Regions from separate parts of the Homo sapiens genome. Here region 2 is linked to region 1. The links come from fine-mapping of genetic effects on plasma protein levels. Region 1 holds a variant in brackets. A gene starts in the other region. All regions are shown on their reverse strands.

What was found. PIP is the chance, under the fine-mapping model, that this variant and not a neighbour inherited with it causes the effect. The UK Biobank Pharma Proteomics Project read protein levels with antibody pairs (Olink). The fine-mapping took linkage between variants from a reference panel, not from the people measured, so its PIPs are less certain.
Region 2: CCL20 starts here. The variant in region 1 is fine-mapped to the plasma level of the CCL20 protein (UK Biobank, PIP above 0.99).

What each region holds. Positions count from the first base shown.
Region 1 is chr6:41,029,502-41,034,874 of GRCh38, reverse strand. It overlaps UNC5CL (unc-5 family C-terminal like), which reads left to right. Exons shown (of 9, transcript NM_173561.3): 2 at 1-185; 3 at 694-994; 4 at 1,729-1,991; 5 at 2,738-2,839; 6 at 3,127-3,194; 7 at 4,120-4,220; 8 at 4,374-4,487. Among named protein-coding and RNA genes, the nearest start is that of UNC5CL, 7.0 kb to the left of the region's middle. The variant A/G (reference allele first, on the strand shown) is at 4,447.
Region 2 is chr2:227,811,196-227,816,500 of GRCh38, reverse strand. It overlaps CCL20 (C-C motif chemokine ligand 20), which reads right to left and starts at 2,659. Exons shown (of 4, transcript NM_004591.3): 1 at 2,514-2,659; 2 at 933-1,047; 3 at 117-194. The coding sequence starts at 2,589.

The DNA of each region.
Region 1 (5,373 bases):
GCACCTGCCAGCCACACTGCCAGAGATGGTTGCCTTCTACCAGGAGCTACACACACCCACTCAAGGCCAGACCATGGTCCGCCAGTTGATGCACAAACTGTTGGTGTTTTCGGCTCGAGAGGTGGATCACCGCGGCGGTTGCCTGATGCTCCAGGATACAGGCATCTCCTTGCTCATCCCACCAGGTAACAGCTCCTGGCTCTCATCTCCGCATACAGTTGGTCAGACTGTACATTAGGTCACCACATCTGAGGGAGCAATGTTCATAGACACCTTTTACTTCTGATAATTGTTTATATTTTGAGTATAGCTTTATTGACTTCAGGGATGGACATATTACATATCTTTTGGGACAACTTCCTGGCAGGTGGAAGTAAAGTGCCTTGTTCTAATGAATCAGTATGCTGTGACAATTCTCTAGTAAAGGGAGGGAAGAGCACCATTTGCAAATTCACACAAGGCACACTATGGGCTAGCAGCAGCCTGGGTGGAAAGGGAAGTGTCTTGCTTAGGGTTACACTACAAGTCAGCTCCACAGTCGTCTTACTCTTGTTCATACCACTTCCCTGTGTGCCCTGCTGGGGGTCTCTCCTGGGCTCCTGCCCCACCTCCTTTCTCTCTGGCCTGGCCTCTTTCAGGGGCAGGGGTGTGCCTGCCTACCAGGCCCATCTCAGCTCTCCCTCTCCCTGCCAGGTGCTGTGGCTGTGGGCCGCCAGGAGCGGGTGTCTTTGATCCTGGTGTGGGACCTGTCGGACGCCCCATCGCTGTCCCAAGCCCAGGGGCTGGTAAGCCCTGTGGTGGCATGTGGCCCCCATGGGGCCTCCTTCCTGAAGCCTTGCACTCTCACGTTCAAACACTGTGCCGAGCAGCCCAGCCATGCTCGCACCTACAGCAGCAACACTACCCTGCTGGATGCCAAGGTATGGAGGCCCCTGGGGCGGCCGGGGGCCCACGCCTCCCGGGATGAGTGTCGCATCCACCTCTCCCACTTCAGGTAGGCACATGCCATTGGCCTGTCTTCCCACACCCATCTCTCTGAGGACTGTCTTTCCTGCCCACTTTCTCTGTCTGCCTTATCTTCATCTCTCTGTATAGAAGATGGTCTGCAAATCCTTTATCCCCTGGTGTCTCTTTCTGGCCCCTCTGTCCTAATGTTTGTAGCAGTTTTTCTCACATCAATCATGTCCATGACTGCAAATCCCATTGCTGTCTCTCTGTCTGTCTGGAAGTGTCTGACTCAGCACCATCTCTCCATCTAAGAGGGACCTGTCTTTCCCATCTCTCTCTGTCTTTCAAATTATCTCTCTCTACACTGTGCCCCTTTCAGGACTGTCCCCAGGCTTAGCACCAGTTCTCTAAGACTCCATTCCATCTCTGTCCTTCTTCTCTTTGTCTTTCTAGAGTCCTAGGTCCTCTGCCTCCCAGCCTCCTTGCCACCCATTGACAGGAATAGGGCCATGTGCGGGTGCCCTCCCAAGCATGGTCACCCTGAGCCCACTTTCCCTCTCTCCCCTGCCAGCTCTCCTCCCCATTCAGTCACCAGTCACTGTGACATGCTCACTTTTCATCCCCAACCTACCAGTTCCTCCCTAAGTGCTCCCCTCGAGTGTTCTCTGAACCTCCTTGAAGGCCCCACAGAGGCCCCTCAGGTGGCAGGAGGCTGGTGGCAGTGTGTTGGTGTCTTAGCCTTCCCTGCACATTAGTGCCTGCCACTGGCTCCCTCTGCAGCCTCTACACCTGTGTGCTGGAGGCACCTGTGGGGCGCGAAGCCCGCAAATGGCTGCAGCTGGCCGTATTCTGCTCACCGCTGGTGCCAGGACAGTCCCATCTGCAACTGCGTATCTACTTCCTCAACAACACGCCCTGCGCCCTGCAGTGGGCACTGACCAACGAGCAGCCCCATGGTGGGCGCCTGCGTGGGCCCTGCCAGCTCTTCGACTTCAATGGGGCTAGGGGCGACCAGTGCCTGAAGCTCACGTACATCTCAGAGGGTGAGGGAGGCAGTGGCCTGTGGGATAGGATGATCGGGAGCCCCACAGGAATGAAGGGTTCTGGGCCTCCCCTGGACATCTGGAGATCTGGGGATCCCAAGTCTCTCTCTCTTTTTTTTTCCCGAGATGGAGTTTCGCTCTGTTGCCCAGGCCGGAGTGCAGTGGCTTGATCTTGGCTCACAGCAACCTCCGCCTCCTGGGTTCAAGTTATTCTCCTGCCTCAGTCTCCTGAGTAGCTGCAATTACAGGTGCCCACCACCATGCCTGGCTAATTTTTTTGTATTTTTGGTAGAGACGGGGTTTCATCATGTTGTCCAGGCTGGTCTCGAACCCCTGACCTCAAGTAATCTACCCGTCTCGGCCTCTGAAAGTGTTGGGATTATAGGTGTGAGCCACCACACCAGGCCCCAAGTCTGTTTGTGACCTCTGGGCCAGCAGTAGCCTCATGGAGCCCCCAGGGCTTTGACCACTCTGCTGTCTACTGAGCCCTTGCCACTCACTCCTTGGACAGGGTGATGCCAGGTGGCAGGTGGGAAGGAGAGGGGTTATACCCCACAGAAGCAGGAAAGGATGGAAGGCTTTTATAGTGCAAGGGCCCTCTTGGGGTCCCAGCCCAGGCTCTGGGGATTCCCATTCCCTTGAGACCCTCCTGCCTTTGTTCTGTCCTCATGCCTCCCCACAGCCCCCTTCAATACTTGTTTAAGGCCCCACTCTCTGAGGCCCTCTGCTGTCTGCCTACTCACCAGGTTGGGAGAATGTGGATGACAGCAGTTGCCAGCTGGTTCCCCATCTCCACATCTGGCATGGAAAGTGCCCCTTCCGCTCCTTCTGCTTCCGGAGAAAAGCAGGTAGTCCGGGAGCCCTGTGTGTACCTCCTCCCCTCTCTTTTCCCATCCTGTCTCCTCTCCTTCCCTCCCAGTAACCCTGGAGCTCTGCAGACCCCCATGCAGCCATGCACACAGACCTTCCCTGAAAGGCCAGGAGCCACACAGATCTTTGCAGAGAGAAAAATGGAGTGTTGGACCCCAGCTTCCTCAGATTTCCCAAGTCTTACTATAGAGTCCCTTACCTTCTCCTGCTCTTACCCCAGGCCGTTTCCTCACTCACTGGCCACGCTGTCACCTTCTCTTTATAGCCGATGAGAATGAGGACTGTTCAGCACTAACCAATGAGATCATTGTCACCATGCACACCTTCCAGGATGTGAGTTGGAGCTGAGGGGCAGAGGAAGGGCAGGGCCTGGGGGAAATCCTAGGCAAAGTGGGCACAGGGTCTGGTGCCCAGTAACTATGGTCTTAATCACATAGGTAAAGATGGCACTTTCCATAGAGCCCCCATACCAGCTCTTTGAGGGGCTGAGATCATCTGGGCTCCAAGTTACCCTCATCCCTGACTCTCCTTGTCTATCGGTGGATGAATCCAGCAGGAAGCTAAAAGAACCAAACCCTAGTTTAACCCCTTCTCCCAACTCAGAGAACTGGGGCATCAAGTTGATATGGTTTCTTTCTAGGCTGATTGTCTACATTTGAGAGATGATGTTTGGTATCTTCAGTGTGGGATTTGAGAGATGATGTTTTGTATTTTCAGTGTGGGAAGTGACCAGGAAGAGGGTCTTGAGTAGGCAGGCTGGGAGTTAGGTATCTCTCCTCTCCTGCTGCACCAAGGGAAGATGCGAAGAAATCGGAGTTGAGAGTCTTTGGGGAACCATAGTGGCACCTTAGTGGAGGGCAGGCAGATACCCTGTTGTCACTTGGAGAAGAGGAAGGGAAGGTTGGAATGGAGGAAGGTACACATATGGCTGAGATCAGTGTCTCTATGGTTGGATGACCTCCCACTGCTCCACGGCCCCACCCAGGACTTCCCCTGGTGGCTCAGGCTGCACTCTGGTCTTCATGTCCCAGTTCCCAAAGAGCTCAGGGGCAAACATAAGGCTGAAGGTGCGGTTCTGAAGTCACAGGGAGACAGTGGGTAGAGGGTGCTGGGTGGAGCAGGGTTGTATCTCCTGGTAAGGTGGCTCTGAGTGACAGACTGAAGGAGAGACATGAGGAATGGAGGTAGGACTCCAGCTTCTTACTCAGGGGGATGGCTTGTGACCCCTAAGTGTGTTCCCTGCCCTGTGTTGACTCAGGGCTTGGAGACCAAGTATATGGAAATCCTCAGATTCCAGGCATCAGAGGAGGAATCCTGGGCAGCGCCACCACCTGTTTCCCAGCCGCCCCCATGCAATAGGTGAGACGGGGGTTGCTTGGGCTGCTGCCTGGGGGATGTTGGGTTCCTACCCTGGCACCCACAGGGTGACTACAGCATTTAGGGTGCATATGGGAGAACCAGAGTGGGTCTGTTTGTCCCTTTCTTCCAAGAACACCCTTTTCCCTGCCTAAGGCTGCCCCCAGAGCTCTTTGAGCAGCTGCGGATGTTATTGGAGCCAAACAGCATCACCGGCAATGACTGGCGC[A/G]GACTGGCCTCCCACCTGGGGCTTTGCGGCATGAAGATCCGGTAGGAAGAGGGGTGAGGTCTGTGGATGGTAGAGGAGGGTGGGCTGGAATGGGGTTCCTCAGGACACTCTGGAGACTGGATCACAGGCAAGGGAGTGACTTAAAAGTCAGAGAATGGCTACTGTCCACCCTATTTCCCATAAAAGGGCAGCTCTATTAATCACTGTATCATCAGTACCTAGAATGATGCCTGGTGCATAGTAGGTGCTCAATTAACATTTAACAGTGAATCCATTAACATGGAAGTTATTTGGTACATGTTGAGTGCTTGCCATGCTATGCCCTGAGGAGGAGCAAGACAGATTATAGGATAATGTGTGTAAAGCATGTAGCTGGGTGCCTGACACTTGTTAATTCAATAAATGTTATCAATAATGGTGACAGTGCAGTCATGATCCCTGTCAAGGAACTCAGAAAGCAGGAGAATACTGAGCTAAGCTCCAGAAACTACACTATGAGTGCAGCGGTCAGGGAAGACTTTATCCTGGTGATGGGGCTAGAGCTGGACCCTGAAAACAGGGTGGATTTTTATTTATTATTATTATCATTATTTGAGACGGAGTCTTGCTCTGTCGCCCAGGCTGGAGTGCAATGGCGCAATCTTGGCTCACTGCAACCTCCATCTCCCGGGTTCAAGTAATTCTCCTGCCTCAGCCTCCCGAGTAGCTGGGATTACAGGCACACGCCACCATGTCCAGCTAATTTTTTATTTTTAGTACAGACGGGGTTTCACCAGGTTGGCCAGGCTGGTCTGCAAACTACAGGGTGGATTTTTAAATCATTCATTTAAACATTTATCAAGTACCTATTATGCCCTGGAAACTGTGCTAAGCACTATGATACAAGATGAATGAGGCATGGTCCCGGCGCCTAGGAGCGCACACACT
Region 2 (5,305 bases), not on the chromosome of region 1:
CCTTTAAAAATTCCACAATAGTTAAACTAAAGAATCCCAGAAAACCTACGGCCCACCCCTTTGCACACTCCTCTTTCCTCAAACATTTGCAAAGGCTAAATGTCAGTGTAACATACCTGAGGAGACGCACAATATATTTCACCCAAGTCTGTTTTGGATTTGCGCACACAGACAACTTTTTCTTTGTGTGAAAGCTGAAAAATCAGAAAATTTGATTTGTGTTTAATGAGCTTTTCAATGGGTTTTTCATAGAACATACAATGGAAATTTTATATTCCAGTTGATTACACACTAAACATTTCAGTTGATGAGGTAAAATAAAATGCACAAAAAATGCTTCTGATGAAGATTAATGCAAAATCAAAGTGATTCTCTCTTTCTCTGCAATGTAACAAATAATAGTACAATGGCAGGAAGATAAAGTCCCAGAATTGTCATATAATTTTGCTATTGGTGGTTACATAGAATATGTATGTATCTGATCAATAACTTGTATAATTCCAAAATATAATATCCTATATAAATCAAGAAAATTATATGTGATAGTATAATTAGTCTGAGATTTTACTTTTGGTCTCAAACACTTTCTGGTAGAAGATGCTCATTTCGAAATGTGTATCTTCCCTATTTTCCTAATATATCACTTTAATAGCCTTAGAAAGTGATTTTTGCCCTATACTAGTTCCGTTTGACCAAAAAAAATTTTTAAAAAAGGTTTTGCCTTATTCCAGTCCTGTTTAAAGTGAACTTTAAAGTAGATATGTACTAAGACAAAGCTATCTTTGCCACATCATTTCTTTCTCTTTAAAATAAGATCTTATGTTCAAAACATCAGTAATTTCTGAATGAAACTCTAAAAAGGCAAACATTTTTAAAACTGAAGTTTCTAGGTATTCCTGATACAACTGAATTAAAATCAATTAATAACTTACATGATAGCATTGATGTCACAGCCTTCATTGGCCAGCTGCCGTGTGAAGCCCACAATAAATTTAGGATGAAGAATACGGTCTGTGTATCCAAGACAGCAGTCAAAGTTGCTTGCTGCTAAAAAAAAAAAAAAGTGAAAGGTATTGGATCCACATGAATAAACTTATCCTGTGATTGGTATTATAAAACTACCTTAAGTTGTGAAAAATCTAGTGAATCTCATGTATATGACGAATAAACCACTTAGAGGAGGAGTTTCAATGTCTTGGAAACCTTTGTAAGGTCGTTGAGAACCAATCTAACATAGTTTACAGTTCTTTGAAAAAACAGTTTGTGTGCCGAGAAGTTTTGGTTCAATAATAGAATTGAGAAACACAGGACTTCTCATAAGTGGGATATCTTCAGTAAGAAATACAAATTGACAATATTTCATTTCAGTTCACTATAATCATTCAAGAATATGAGCAGCCCCTTCCCTACTGCTTGAAGGAACCCTTATGTAGATAAACTTCCAAAAGCAGAAAATGAATAAATTGGCAGATTTTAATCTATTATCTGGCTACTAAGTATTGAGAAATAGAGCTACAAAGGGAAATATGATTTATAGGAGTGAAAACACTTTGAAATTGTCCTATTAATTAATAGGAATGTTTAATTTTGTTCATAAAAGTTCAACATGTGGTTGGGCATGGTGGCTCATGCCTGTAATCCCAGCACTTTGGGAGGCCAAGGAGGAAGGATTGCTTGCCTCCAGGAGTTCGAGACCAGCCTGGGCAACACAGTGAAACCCTGTCTCTACAAAAAAAAAAAAAATGTAAAAAAATTAGCCAGGTGAGTGGCACACGGCCGTGGTCCCTGTTATTCAAGAGGCTGAGACTGGAGGTTCACTTGACTCCAGGAGGTTGAGGCTGTAGTGAGCTGTAATCATGCCACTGCACTCTGGCCTGGGTGATGAAGTTAGACCCTGCCTCAGAAAAAAAAAAAAATTCAATGTGCATTTTTAGGAATGCACCTGTTGCTAAAAGTGTTGTGTGACTATTGAGCAATAAAGCAATACTTGGACATTCCCGAGTCAGATTACAACATGCTGTAAGGTAAGGGATTAATGTTATTTTAAAGTTGGCAAGCAATGTCCCCCATGCCTTGTGGGGATGTTGATGTCAGGTATTATAATCTACTTCTAAAGGATGAGTTTTGAACTTTACCAAAACTATTAAGTTGGGAGGTACGAAAGTTGGGGACACAGGAGGATTCTCTACATTTCAAAATGGCCCCATCTACTGGTAACATTACACACTTTATATCACTCCCAGAAACATCACTTTGGCTTTATCCTGAAGTTTAGGGATCTCTAAGAGCCCACCACTCCCCAAATCTGCTGAGATTGACAGCAGAGAGGAAAGCCTGATCCGCAGCAGTAACTCTTCTCTCCTCCACTCCACCATGGGCAGACAACTTCCATCACTACCTCTTGTATACTTCCTAACAGTTTTCCATCCCTTAGGGACCCCCAGTTGAGCTCAAGGCTAAAAGGAAAATGAAAATAGTCTTTCTTCTGTGCTAGCGGAAAGAGCGACACTTACCTTCTGATTCGCCGCAGAGGTGGAGTAGCAGCACTGACATCAAAGCAGCCAGGAGCAAACTCTTGGTACAGCACATGGTTTTTAGCTCAAAGAACAGATCTGCTCAGTGTTGAGTACCCAGTTCTTTGGGAGTGCTGTTATATTCTGACAGCAGCCTGGGATGGCCCTATTTATAGCAAATATTGGGAATGTACACAGAAGGCGTGTTGCCACATGGGGTTTTCCCCATTGATCAACTGGCCCCATCATGTCATCATAAAAAAAACCCGCAAGGAAAACTTCCTGCTTTTTCCTCATATTGGGAAGGTGCGAAGGTCAGGGTGGGGGACAGGAAGTTGAGAAGGGGAGAATCCTGTTAAATTCTTTGTATTTGCAAAGAGCAAAAGCAGCTCAGCCCTGTGACCCAGAAAAGACTTTCATCCAGTTTTAACTTAATCATTTTTGTGTCTGAAAATAGAGGATTAACAGCGATACAAAGGTCAGCCCCACACAGGAACATTCCAGAACTCCTATTGTTACACCCTATTTGCTTTCCAGAACCAGTCAAGGAGGAGGGGGAGGAGGAGCAGGTGGGATGCCAGGCATACTCTGCTACACATTTACCATCACATGGTTGAGGTTCAGCTGTCATGAAGAAGACCCTGAGTTGCTAGACTAACATTCAGAGCAGGTACTATAACAGTGCTACAGTACTGTCCGCAGTTAGAGTGGAAAATATCAGCCTTTAAGTAAGGCTCAAACCTCAGCTTCACCTTGATTTAATGTCAACTCTTCTAAGAATCTTATACATTCACATGGCTTTAATCAATATTGCAGTTCAGAAAATAATCCTTACCTACCTTTAACTCTCCATGATGATGTACTAATATAACTCAATATAGAGCCTCAGAATTGTTGAGGAAAGAAAACCTATCAGCAGTAGCTAGTCAGCACAGCAAATGTCAAATAACAGTACTAATGATGATAATGTAATATGAATCCCTAACCTAAGGCAGTATAAGAACTCTCCACTAGACCCAAATAGGTTGAAAGTAAAAGGATCAAAAGAAAGGTATACCAAACAGTAAACAAAAGAGAACTGGAGTTGGTGATGCCTATATCAGACAAAATAGATTTTTTTTTAATGTTACCGGAAATAAAAAGGGACTTTCATGGTAACACAAAATTAACCCATTGGGAAGATGTAAAACCTATAACCATATATATACCTAACAGTAGCACCCCAAACTACAGAAAGCAAAAACTGACAGAATTGAAGGGAAGAATAGGAAATTTTATTTTATTTTATTATTATAATTTCTTTTGAGACAGAATTTTGCTCTTGTTGCCCAGGCTGGAGTGCAGTGGCACCATCTCGGCTCACTACAACCTCCGCCTCCTGGGTTCAAGCGATTCGCCTGCCTCAGCCTCCTGAGTAGCTGGGACTACAGGCACGTGCCACCACGCCCAGCGAATTTTTGTATTTTTAGTAGAGACGTGGTTTCACCATGTTGCCCAGGCTGAACTCCTGACCTCATTACAGGCATGAGCCACCGTGCCCAGCAGAATAGGAAATTTAACAATAAAAGTTGACAGCTTTGGTACCACATTTTCACTAATTAATAAAATTTAGGCAGAAGATCCACAAGAAAATAGAAGACTTGAACAACACTATAAGCCAAATAGACTTAGCAGGCATCGAAGGACTACTCTATCCAACATCAACAGAATAGTTGCACATGGAATGTTCTCTAGGATAAAGCATATGGTAGGTTATGGAACAAGTCTCAGTAAATGTAAACCGACTGAAATCACATAAAGTATACATTCAAACCACAATGGAATTAAATCAGAAATCAGTAACAGACAGAAAGGAAACCACATATTCCTAAATAACCAATGTGTCTGGCCAGGAGTGGTGGCTCATGCCTGTAATCCTAGCATTTTGGGAGGCCGAGGTGGGTGGACTGCCTGAGGTCAGGAGTTCGAGACCAGACTGGCCAACATAGTGAAACCCTGTCTCTACTAAAAATACAAATATTAGCCGGGTGTGGTAGTCCATGCCTGTAATCCCAGCTACTTGGGAGGCTGAGGCAGGAGAATCGCATGAGCCCAGGAAGCAGAAGTTACGGCGAGCCGAGATCACGCTACTGCCCTCTAACCTGGCCAACAGAGACTCCATCTCAAAGGAAAAAACAACAACAACAACAACAATGTGTCAAAAGAAAAGTCACTAGAGAAAGTAGAAAACAACTTTGAAATGTAAAAAAAAGTCCACAACATATCAAAACTTATAGGATGTAGCAAAAGCAGTCCTCAGAAGGAAACTTATAGCTGTAAACACTCACATTAAAAAAAAAAAAAAAGAAACATCTCAAAACAATAACCCAAACTTCTACCTTAAGAAACTAGAGAAAAGCAGAGCAAGCTAAACCCAAAGCATGCAGAAGGAGGGAAATGAAGATTAGAGCAGGAATAAATAAAACAGAGAATGCAAAACAATAGAGGAAATCAACGAATGCGAAAGTTAGTTCTTTGAGAAGATCAACAAAACTAACAAGCCTTGACTAGACCAAACCAAACAAAGGAAAGGGAGGTAAAAAAAAAAAAAAAAAAAAAAAAACTGTATGCAAATAAAATTACTATGCCGACAGCACAGTAAAAAGATCATACACCATAACCAAGTGGGATTTATTCCAGGAAATGTAATACAACAAATCAATCAAATAAAAAATAAAAATGATTTGAAAAGCAACTGACAAAATCCAACACGTTGTCATGACAAAAACACTCAACTAACTAGGAATAGTTGA